Homo sapiens: one gene and its partners. The protein of the gene in region 1 interacts with the protein of each later gene in a pairwise test. Each region holds a gene or a part of one and is shown in the gene's direction. Other genes may lie near its edges. The genes, in order: PAX4, NRXN3 and NTM.

Region 1 (2,829 bases):
ATTTATCCATCCATCCATCCATCCATCCATCCATCCATCCATCCATCCACCCATTCATTCATGCATCCATCCATGCATCTGCTCATGCATTCATCCATCCATCCACCCATGCATCCGCCCATGCATCCATCCAGCCACCCATGCACCCATGCATCCATCCATCCATCCATCTTTCCATTAATCTGTGCATCCATCCACCCATCCATCCAATATTTACTCAGCATCTCCCCAGTGCCAGACCCTGTGCTAGATGCTGGGCACACACAGTCCCGGATCTTAAGGCTGCACTGTCCCCAGTACCATCACTGGAATTTAATCATTCTTCTCCAGTTTCCCAAGGACCTGTCTTGGGGAAGAGGACAGTTTTGGGTTAAAATATCCATCTCTTCACACCCCTGCAAGAAGTGGCTGACTTTCCTAGAACCTCTTTGTATCCAACCTTCCTGCCTCTCACCACACTCCTCCCGTCCCTAACCCCAATTCCTCCTTCTGAGTGGATTCACTCTCATTTTATAGGTGCTTCCCAGGGGCTGACTGTACCAAGGGTTGCCCCAGGAATCATCTCTGCACAGGTACTCGGGAGGAGAGGGGAGTCTGTGCCCTGGGAAGACTGAAGGGCTCATGGGCTCTTCCATTTCTGGCCTGAGCCAGGATCTCCGGCTCTCCAGGGCCCCACAGTGTTCATGTCAAGAAAGTACTAACCCAAAGTCTACTATGTGAATGGTGCCCTCTGGAGTTGTGCAGGATACTACTTGGGTGGCAGGCAGCTCTGGGGTCCCGGCGTTCTCTACAGGAGGCATCACTGGAAGCTAAGGTTCTTCTCTTGCTTTTTTTTTTTAGCAGTCCCCTGGCAGTGTGCCCACAGCAGCCCTGCCTGCCCTGGAACCACTGGGTCCCTCCTGCTATCAGCTGTGCTGGGCAACAGCACCAGAAAGGTGTCTGAGTGACACCCCACCTAAAGCCTGTCTCAAGCCCTGCTGGGGTAAGAATTCAGGCCAGGCCTCAGTCCTGCAGGATGTAGGGAGGGTCGACTGACTCAACCTCCAGGAGGGCATGGATCTCCATTGGGGGTCATCAAAGGAATCTCAATACAGCTTTCCTCATTCTTTGCATGGTCCACAAAATTACGGAGACTAGTAACCCCTGAGTCTATGGTATCACTGACAGCCATAGCAGGTAAAGGATGTGAGACTGGGATTCAAGTGTGTATATGCAGGGTGGGAAACTGATGTCTCAGCCTCTCTCCCATAGTGACTTTGAGAGGTGGGGTGGGAGCAATAACCCCAAGCTCTCTCTATTTGTCCCCACAGGCCACTTGCCCCCACAGCCGAATTCCCTGGACTCAGGACTGCTTTGCCTTCCTTGCCCTTCCTCCCACTGTCACCTGGCCAGTCTTAGTGGCTCTCAGGCCCTGCTCTGGCCTGGCTGCCCACTACTGTATGGCTTGGAATGAGGCAGGAGTGGGAAGGAGATGGCATAGAGAAGATCTAATACCATCCTGCCCATTGTCCTTACCGTCCTGCCCATACAGACTGTGGCTCCTTCCTCCTTCCTGTGATTGCTCCCTCCTGTGTGGACGTTGCCTGGCCCTGCCTCGATGCCTCTCTGGCGCATCACCTGATTGGAGGGGCTGGTAAAGCAACACCCACCCACTTCTCACACTAGCCTTAAGAGGCCTCCACTCAGCAGTAATAAAAGCTGTTTTTATTAGCAGTAGTTCTGTTGTCCATCATGTTTTCCCTATGAGCACCCCTATGCCCACTCTAATATTCAACAATTATAGACAATTTGCCCTATCATTTATTTACATCTATGTATCTACCATCTAATCTATGCATGTATGTAGGCAATACATGTATCTAAACAATGTATTTGTCAATGCATCAATTTACCTACTCTATGTATGCATCTATATGTGTATTATGTATGCGTGCATGCGTGCGCGCACACACACACACACACACACACACTGACATTATATCATGGCATTTTATTCCTAAATCTTCCAGCATGCATCCCCAAAAAACAAGAAACTTGTCTTACATAATCACAATAATATATCCACATCTAAGAAAATTTACTGTAACTTCTTAATCTAAGAAAATTATGTATTTTTGTCATATGTATTTTGTCATATGTATTTTGTATTTGCATATGTATTTTGTATTTGCATATGTATTTTTGTCATAGCAGCAAACAGAGTGAAATGCCATTTTTCATATTCTGCTTTCCATTTATATGTGCTTTATTTATACATGCTCCAGGGGCATGTTTGCTTGGTCCTTTTGGCAGTAAGTTCCAAACCTTCTCAATTCTGTCCCTTCAAATAAAGGTCTAGGCCCTTCCTGAGAAGTCTCAGGATGTGGAGAAAGGGAGGAATATGGGGGAAAGGCGGTGAAGAATCGGATATTCAGCAAGGAGGATAGGCTCATCCTTCCAAATTCTTTCCCTTTTGAAAGTCAGGCGATGGATAATGATGGTGCAATGCTGGTCGGCGGGCGGGGAGGTGGGGGCATTGTTTACTCCTATCTGGGATAGGTACTGATCCAGAAGACGTCATTCAAGAGGCCTCTTCATTATCAAATACTGTGCTGTGCTGAACTGTGCTGTTAAATAAGTAGCCACCAACCACATGTGACTATTTAAATGTAATTCACATTAAAAAAAAAAGAAGAATGCAGTTCTTCACTCACATTAGCCACATTTCAAATGCTCAGTAGTTACATGTGGCTTGTAAGGACTATCGAGCATTTCAGTCATTGCAGAAAGTTCTATGGGACTGCACAGCTCTAGAATGAAATTTCAAGGGTAATAGAGCACATCTTGCCC
Region 2 (3,653 bases), on another chromosome or scaffold:
AATATTCCATTATAACGCTGTGCCATCTGCTATTGATGGTCATTTAGGTTGTTTCTGGTATTTTACTAAGGGTGCTTCAGTAAATCACTTTGTATGAAGTATGTGAATCCATGCAACTCGATCTCTCTTGATTTTTATTTGCAAGCTTATGTTGTATAACTTTCTGACAACACAAGAAATTGGCCAGGAGACAAAAGAAATTCTGTAGAAATATAGAGGCTTTTTTGGAGCTTGTGTGCACATCAGATGTTTCTTCAGATACCTTTTTGGTTCCTGTGTCTCATTGTTTCTCATGTTGTTTTGGGCTATGTCCTGAAGCCTCTTTTTGGGTCATTTTTCCAGGTGCCCAGTGAGTGATGGATGGATACTGTTTGCAAGATTGATTCACATGGCACTTTTGTTTGGCTTTTGACAGGTTGTTTATAAGAATAATGACATCCGTCTGGAGCTGTCTCGCCTGGCCCGGATTGCGGACACCAAGATGAAAATCTATGGCGAAGTTGTGTTTAAGTGTGAGAATGTGGCCACACTGGACCCCATCAACTTTGAGACCCCAGAGGCTTACATCAGCTTGCCCAAGTGGAACACTAAACGTATGGGCTCCATCTCCTTTGACTTCCGCACCACAGAGCCCAATGGCCTGATCCTCTTCACTCATGGAAAGCCCCAAGAGAGGAAGGATGCTCGGAGCCAGAAGAATACAAAAGTAGACTTCTTTGCCGTGGAACTCCTCGATGGCAACCTGTACTTGCTGCTTGACATGGGCTCTGGCACCATCAAAGTGAAAGCCACTCAGAAGAAAGCCAATGATGGGGAATGGTACCATGTGGACATTCAGCGAGATGGCAGATCAGGTAGGAAGAGGCAGGATGTGTGACTGAGACTAGACGAAAGCTGTAGCTTCTCAGTTTGTTTTTTGGCTTTATGTTTCTTAATTTTCACCCTTGCATGCTTGTTGATTCTTTTGCTACTCTCTTTAATGGCTGTTGTAAAATTATGTTTCTGAAAAGATACCTGTCTCATAGATGGCTCACATTCTCCGCTTATCTCTCTTGTCACTCACTGCGCAATTGTCTCAGTGATAGCTCTACGATCCTGGAGCTAAGGATGGTTTTACAAGTAGCATTTCCACTGCTACCAGAGCAACTCTCATGTCACTGGTGTGATCCGCCCCCATTGCCCCATTCTTTGCTTCTCTTTTTCCTCATCACCATGGAAACCGATTGTGACATCACAGATGCTGCATTATGTGATTATTTTGTAGGATAAACTTCACTGTGCAAGAATTTATGCAACAATACACCCTTCAGTAATTGGCAAGAGTCATGTTGCATGGAGAAATTATGACAAGAAAGGAAAAGGCAAATTGATTTTTCCTGAAGATACATTCAATTTAAAGCCTTCCTTTGGTGTAAAAGCCTATATTTCACTCTTTGTTCAGACCTCACTAACTCTCTCTTCCTCTTCATAACCTTTTACATTTTGTTTAAATGGCTTTGTTTCTGCAGCTGCAGATCAAACAAGCTAGCCCCAGGCAGTACATAGCTACTATGGAATAGTAACAAAGTGGGGGTGGGGGTGGGGCAAAATAGTCAGGGGTTTTTGAATGCCTGGACAGTCTGCCTAGCTTTCTATGGACCATGTGGCAATGAAGGTCACATTCTGTGCTATCAGAAAGGGCATTTTCCCAAGAGCAGTAATTAGAGCATTTGCCATTTCAGACTCATTTCCTGATTCTCCATTTAGGTAGGATGTACTCAAGAAGGGTCTTGGCTTCATGTGCCATATTTATAGAGATTCACTTTCCTGATGAACATTAAAAAGTCTCTATTTGGATATTTTCTTTCTAGGTACATTTGGCCAGTAAGAGAGAGCAATAAGTTCCCCAAAAGGCTGAAACTGGGAGTGACTGAGCTTTGGTGGGTTGGCTTTTCTGCATAATTCCAAAGCTAGGCTGACGGCAGAGATAGCAATATTGCCCTTAGGAAGAGCTGGATGGGTTCTTTGCAGAGGGCAGATGGGTGGCAGATTGCAGCCCTGGCTATTTTATTGCCCAGTAGGAATCTTTACTGGTTGTCTGAAATCTGATCAGAACCAAGAGCCTTCAAATTAAATGTGCTCGTTAAGCAAGAATGAATAGTGTCTACCCTTTTACACAGAAAAACACCCAAAAAATTAATTTCTTTGGAGGCTAAATCCCGCCACACCCCCCATACTTCTTCTTCTTCTTTTCTTTCTCCTTCTCTGCTTTTCAGTAAAATGACAGCAAGAGCAGAGTCAGAAAGCTGTTCCAGAATTATAAAGAAAACACTGCTGTTGGTTTTTAAGAGCATGTGTTTGGGATCTCTGAGGTTAGGTCACGGTGGACGGGTTTTGTGTCTGACTAACCTAGACCTTGGCACAGCATAAAAGTTACCTTACCCGTGTCTCAGGCAGGCTAAAACACACAAAATTGCCATTTGTTCATTTCTGTCTGTTCCTAATACAAATTTTTCTTTCAAACAATTTTGAACAAAGGGGAACAGTTTTTGTTGTTTAAACCACCAGTGGACCCAACTTCAACAAATATGTTTGAATTTCAGAAGTCTTAAATTTCATACCTGGGAGCTAAAGCACTGGCTAATTCTTTTCTCTTTTTTTTTTTTTTTTTTTTTTTTGAGACAGAGTTTCTCTCTTGCTGCCCAGGCTGGAGTGCAATGGCGCAGTCTCGGCTCACTGCAAACTCTACCTTCCAGGTTCAAGTGATTCTCCTGCCTTACCTCCCAAGTAGCTGGGATTACAGGCACCCTCCACCAAGCCCAGCTAATTTTTGTCTATTTAGTAGAGACAGGGTTTCACCATGTTGGCCAGGCCAATCTCGAACTCCTGACCTCAGATGATCAACCCATCTCGGCCTCCCAAAGTGCTGGGATTACAGGAGTAAGCCACTGTGCCAGGCCTGGCCAGTTTTTTGAACTACTGATGAATTTGATCAAAGCCTATTAAAAACTTACTGAGTAAACAAACAATTGTCCCATGAAAGCAGTATAATCTAAAATTTTAATACAGTCTGTTAAACTTTCATTTTTTCATGAGAATGTTTTCTGGTAACTTGTTTTAGATTATAAATCTATACTAAAGGATAGTTATAAAAACAAGTGTATCTAAATGTGGTGCCTCCTTCCCTGATAATCTTGAAGAATAATATAACAAACAGTGATCTAGAAAAACTTTTATGATCACTCCTCACTTGGGCAAGTCAGTCTTAGAACTTGTTAAGTGCATTCAAAACTGTTATGGTCACACATTCAGAGAACAGATTTTCCTCAGGTTGTATTTAAGGCTCTAAAATTTAAATTGATTCTAGTATTGTCTTTACTTGGCAATAGATGTCTCCCCATTTTAGTTGGTGATCAGATTAGCCCTGTGGACCTGTGAGGGGTAAAGAAAGAAAACTATGCAACAGAGAAAATAGTAAGAGATAGAGACCTCAACTTCCTCCTTTGTAAGATAGAGAAAATAATAACTCCTACCTCCCAATATTGTTTTGAGGATCAAGTCCAAAAATGCACATAAAATAGTTAAAATGGTAGCCAGGACATTATTGTTGTTATATAAGTGTTTGAAAGATTGAAAAACAAAAGGCAAAGCATATTTCTCTAGGAGTAAACTTC
Region 3 (4,358 bases), on another chromosome or scaffold:
TCAAGGCATAGTAGGGGTATGAATGTGTCAGAATTAGCTAAGGAAGGTTCTGTGAGAAACTACATTTTCTTTTTCTTTTCTTTTTTTTTTTTTTTTTTCTTGAGACAGGGGCTGGCTCTGTCACCCAGACTGGATTGTAGTGGCGCCATCTTGGCTTACTGTGATCTCCGCCTCCCAGGCTCAAGCAATTCTCCTGCCTCAGCCACCCAAGTGGCTGGAACCACGGGTGCGCACCACCAAACCCAGATATTTTTAAGGAATTTTTTAGTAGAGATAGGGTTTCACCATGTTGCCCAGGCTGGTCTCGAATTCCTGAGCTCAGGCTACTGGCCTTCCTTGGCCTCCCAAAGTTGTGGGATTACAGGCGTGAGCCACAGTGCCCAGCCAGGAGCTACATTTTCTAGATTTTTTGTTCACATCCTCTAACTTGCTTCTCATAAGGGGAAGCCAAAGATTAGAATAAACTTCCAGGCCCTAGAATTAGACCTCTTAAGAAATCATTTATGTCCATTAGATTATTTCTGTTCGGTTTTTATTCTTTCCTATCACCAAGGAGGTTAATGTCTTCAACTGTCTGAGGAACTACACAAAGTTTACACTCAGAAAGCCCCTCCGCATGTCTACCCTGAATCTTTCTCGCTGCAGTTTAAATCACAGATGCTTCTATGATTGCTTTAGTGGATGTGGATTGACCAAGTCATGGGGAATAAACTCCTGCTTTGTTTTCTTTTGAAGAAGGTTCTCCATCTTCAGACTATAGAGCTTCTTCTCAAATACCAGGTACTTTGTACCTTTCCATTGTATCATATACACATGGATGAATTTAGGAAATTGACTTCTAAAAAGTGAATGAAAAAGAGGAGTAACATAGATGTTCTGAAACAGAAGTGACAGGAGGAGAAAATAGAAAGTTATTTACTATTTTCAAAGCAACTAAGTAGAAAGGTTGATGAAAGAGAGAAAAAAAAGCTGTCACTGAATGATATTTCCATTGGAGGGGAAAATAGGTACCAACAAATGAAAATTGCCTCATCTTTACAAGTTTCACTGAGCATGAAAATGTCCCTTTAAAATTTCCCATAAGCCATGGCTGGCTATGGGATTTTTCCAGTGCAAAGGGAATCTGAGTTCAGGAGGCCAGGGAATGCCAGGGGGAAAGGGATTTTCTGATACTCAGAAGACTCAGAGACTGTCAGTTTAAAAAATGAAAGTAATATAGAAGGGGCAAAGTGGCATTTATCATTCTATCTCTCCAGGCTCCTGTCTCTTTAATCAGCTAGCCTGATTTGCCCAGTAAATGATTCCTGAGAGTGTGTGTGCGTGTGTGTGTGTGTGTGTGCCCGCGCGCGTGTGTTGTAGCTCTGTCAATCCTTGGATTAGAACCAATGATTGCAGCTTGTAGGAGGGCTGTCCAGGGCCAGATTGTACAATGTGTCTCAGTGCCAGAGTATGAGTGGAGATAATTACGGAGAAGTCATACTCTCTCACACCCTCGGCTTTCTTGTTGTGTCCTTCAGCAAAACAGTGGATTTAAATCTCCTTGCACAAGCTTGAGAGCAACACAATCTATCAGGAAAGAAAGAAAGAAAAAAACCGAACCTGACAAAAAAGAAGAAAAAGAAGAAGAAAAAAAATCATGAAAACCATCCAGCCAAAAATGCACAATTCTATCTCTTGGGCAATCTTCACGGGGCTGGCTGCTCTGTGTCTCTTCCAAGGTAAGAGCTTGCTATTGATTTGCCTTCGGTAGACCCAGGAATTGTACAGTGTGCTTTATAAGATTTGCAGACTCCCCGAGTCGGCTGTGCTGCGCTGTTTGCAGGTGGAGGAGAGAGCGTTTAGACAGCATGGCTGGGACTTCATTCTCCCGACTAGGCTGTGAGAATATTGATTTGATTCTGGCTGCTACCGGAATGGGGGAATATGTATGTGCATAAGTAAAATGTGTTTGGTGCTCCTGTTAGGACTGTGCTTGTGTGCAAGGCTCCCTGGCTTCATGCACATTCTTGCACACATACACAACGGAGCACACATGTAAGCAGGGGGAAATGACAGATTCGGAGGGCAACAGGGTTGCTAATGTGTTGCTTATGCGACTGGGAAGAAATTACAAGAGGAAACTTTAAATATCGGCCAGCGAACTTGCAAAGCTTTTAAAAGGAGCAAAGGGGAAAATGCAGGCTAGAAAGAATCAGGTGCTTCCTGTGAGGTTCTGGTCAGCGATCCAGCTGCAAGGGATGAGTCAATTTGCAGCAGTGGGGGACAACTGTATTAGTTTTAAATGTGTTCGGGGGTGTGTTTGTGGCTGGGGTCGGAGGTGTGGAAGCGAGGGGAGCCGGGGCTCTGAAATTCTAAAAAGCTTTTCGAAGTTGAAGGGAGAGAGGCAATAAGAGTCGAATGCTAATTTTCTGTTTATTTATCGGCTGAGCCGGGAGCCCTGGGGGCTGCAGTTGAGTGCAAGCTTTGATGTCCCCAGTGCTGTGTTCTGTGCATTTGGAATCGGCCTCCACCTTGAGTCCATTTGCTGCACCGTGCCTCCCCACACCCCATCCCGGCTCTCACGTCTGTTCGTTCCAGCAACAGAATTATCCACTAATCTTCTTGCTCCCACCTGCCCTGTCCTTTGGGGTAACTAGTTTGCCTCTTTTATATTAAACACAGCTAAAACTCGTAAGGATCGAGACAAGCTGAGAAACTTTCCCAGGGTGGCCCAGCAGGGCTCCGGGAGGAGGAGCCCTCTCTTGGGAGGTGAGGCTCAGTCCTATGCAGTTGTATTCCCAGAGGAAAGTTCCCTCTGACCCGGTGAAAAACGATGGGGAGTCCCACCCCCTCGCCCTCTTCTCCCCCTGCAATATGGAGTTCTCCTGATCTGGACTGAGTCCTGAGCTGTAGTCCTGCTGGCTCTTCTCCGAGGTTAGGATTTAGGGATTGCTGCTGTCCTCTTGACATAGGTTGCAGTGGCTGCAGTGTGGATCCACGTAAGGTGGGCAGAGAGACCAGGCTGGAAGGATCAAATGTGTACACCCTTGACTGGGGCTCGATGAAGAAGGCAAGGGGTGGGGACAGGAGGGATCTGTGTCGGGTGATAAGGAAGTCCAAGGTGGTGAATCTTGCAGGGATGTCCATGATGTCGTCTGCTGCACCCAACCCCAGGAGGCATGGGCCTCAGGATTCCCTGCTGTCCCCTAGGGGCTTTGGTGGGTGTTTGAGTGAAGGGAATCAACTTGGAGGCATCCTCGATTGACTCCTCTTATATAATATGAAGCAGTATCAGTGTGTGTGTGTGTGCGTGCGTGTGTGTGCACCCCTGCTTGTTCTGGGTGCACAAGAATGAAGTGGGGAAGCTGAGTTCAGGATCGGGCAGTTTCGGAAAAGCAGTTTCTGTGGGGGTTGACAGCAAAAATGAAAACTAAGCAGGCAAGGGGTAGGGTGAGGGGTCAGAGGTAGGGAGAGGGAAGGTCCCAAGCCCTCAGTCATTTCTATCTGTCCCGAGATCCATGTCTCTTCTGCCTGTAACATCAAACTGGAGACAATGACCAAACTTCCACCATCAACAGCCCTGCTGGCTGCATGCCAGGAGCCCCAGGGCCATACTGAATTTACATATAAATTAGCATACGTGATTTTTTTTTTCATCAGAATAAATGCAGGGAAGCATAATATTTGCTCATACTTTGAATCATCTCTGAATAGATGAGTAGCAAAGTGGTGGTGCCAATTTCTCTAAGGTGCCATCTGACTTTGTGGTCTTGTTCCTAACTTGGGGTAGGGGTGGTGGCGACAGCACTATCTCAGACCTTATCACATTCTACCGAATCCGGAATTTCTCAAAAAGAATGATGGCCTTATTTGTGCTACCCTCACCCAGTCAGCCCTGAACAGGCTTCAGTGGTCGTAATAGAACAAGGTTGCCCAATTTTAACGCAGAACGACCCCCAAAGACCCGCATATTGCATGCCAGTCAGATGTGGCAAAGGTGATGTCTGTTTTCTCTTTCAGAGGAAGGAAGCTGAAGTCTGCCAGCTATCTCTTATCAAACTTGCAGAATTACTGAGGCAGCCCAGGTCTTGCCTGCAATAATCCACCCCTATTGCATTGACCCAGTGGGACTAGTTAGAATGCAGCACACATTCCAAGGCGATTTTTTCTTCTCCTCTGTTTTTGTTTTAAGCTGGTTCTTCCTAGAGCTGCTGCTTCCTGTGCCTCCTGCCTCTTGAAAAGGTGTCTGGTGCTAATGGCAGGTTAGGAACCCCTCCCTGACCTGCTCCTCCCCACAACCCAACCAGCAACCAAGATCCAGCTTAGGTAGGGAGGGGGGTTTCTGAGGGAATCAGCACTGATTAGTGACGCTGACAGGA

The links.
Region 2: the proteins of PAX4 (region 1) and NRXN3 interact in a two-hybrid assay, tested with the Homo sapiens proteins (one large-scale study listed by BioGRID).
Region 3: the proteins of PAX4 (region 1) and NTM interact in a two-hybrid assay, tested with the Homo sapiens proteins (one large-scale study listed by BioGRID).

Annotation. Positions count from the first base shown.
Region 1 is NC_000007.14:127,609,688-127,612,516, reverse strand, and holds the end of PAX4 (paired box protein Pax-4), read left to right. Parts: intron 1-516; coding exon 517-572; intron 573-840; coding exon 841-982; intron 983-1,310; coding exon 1,311-1,453; 3' UTR 1,454-1,531; coding exon of another isoform or gene 1,532-1,665; 3' UTR 1,666-2,225; downstream 2,226-2,829.
Region 2 is NC_000014.9:78,708,802-78,712,454, forward strand, and holds part of NRXN3 (neurexin 3), read left to right. Parts: exon of another isoform or gene 1-415; coding exon 416-854; exon of another isoform or gene 855-1,159; intron 1,160-3,653. UniProt on the Homo sapiens protein: Neuronal cell surface protein that may be involved in cell recognition and cell adhesion. May mediate intracellular signaling. Functions as part of a trans-synaptic complex by binding to cerebellins and postsynaptic GRID1.
Region 3 is NC_000011.10:131,369,171-131,373,528, forward strand, and holds the start of NTM (neurotrimin isoform 9 precursor), read left to right. Parts: upstream 1-1,444; 5' UTR 1,445-1,636; coding exon 1,637-1,718; intron 1,719-4,358.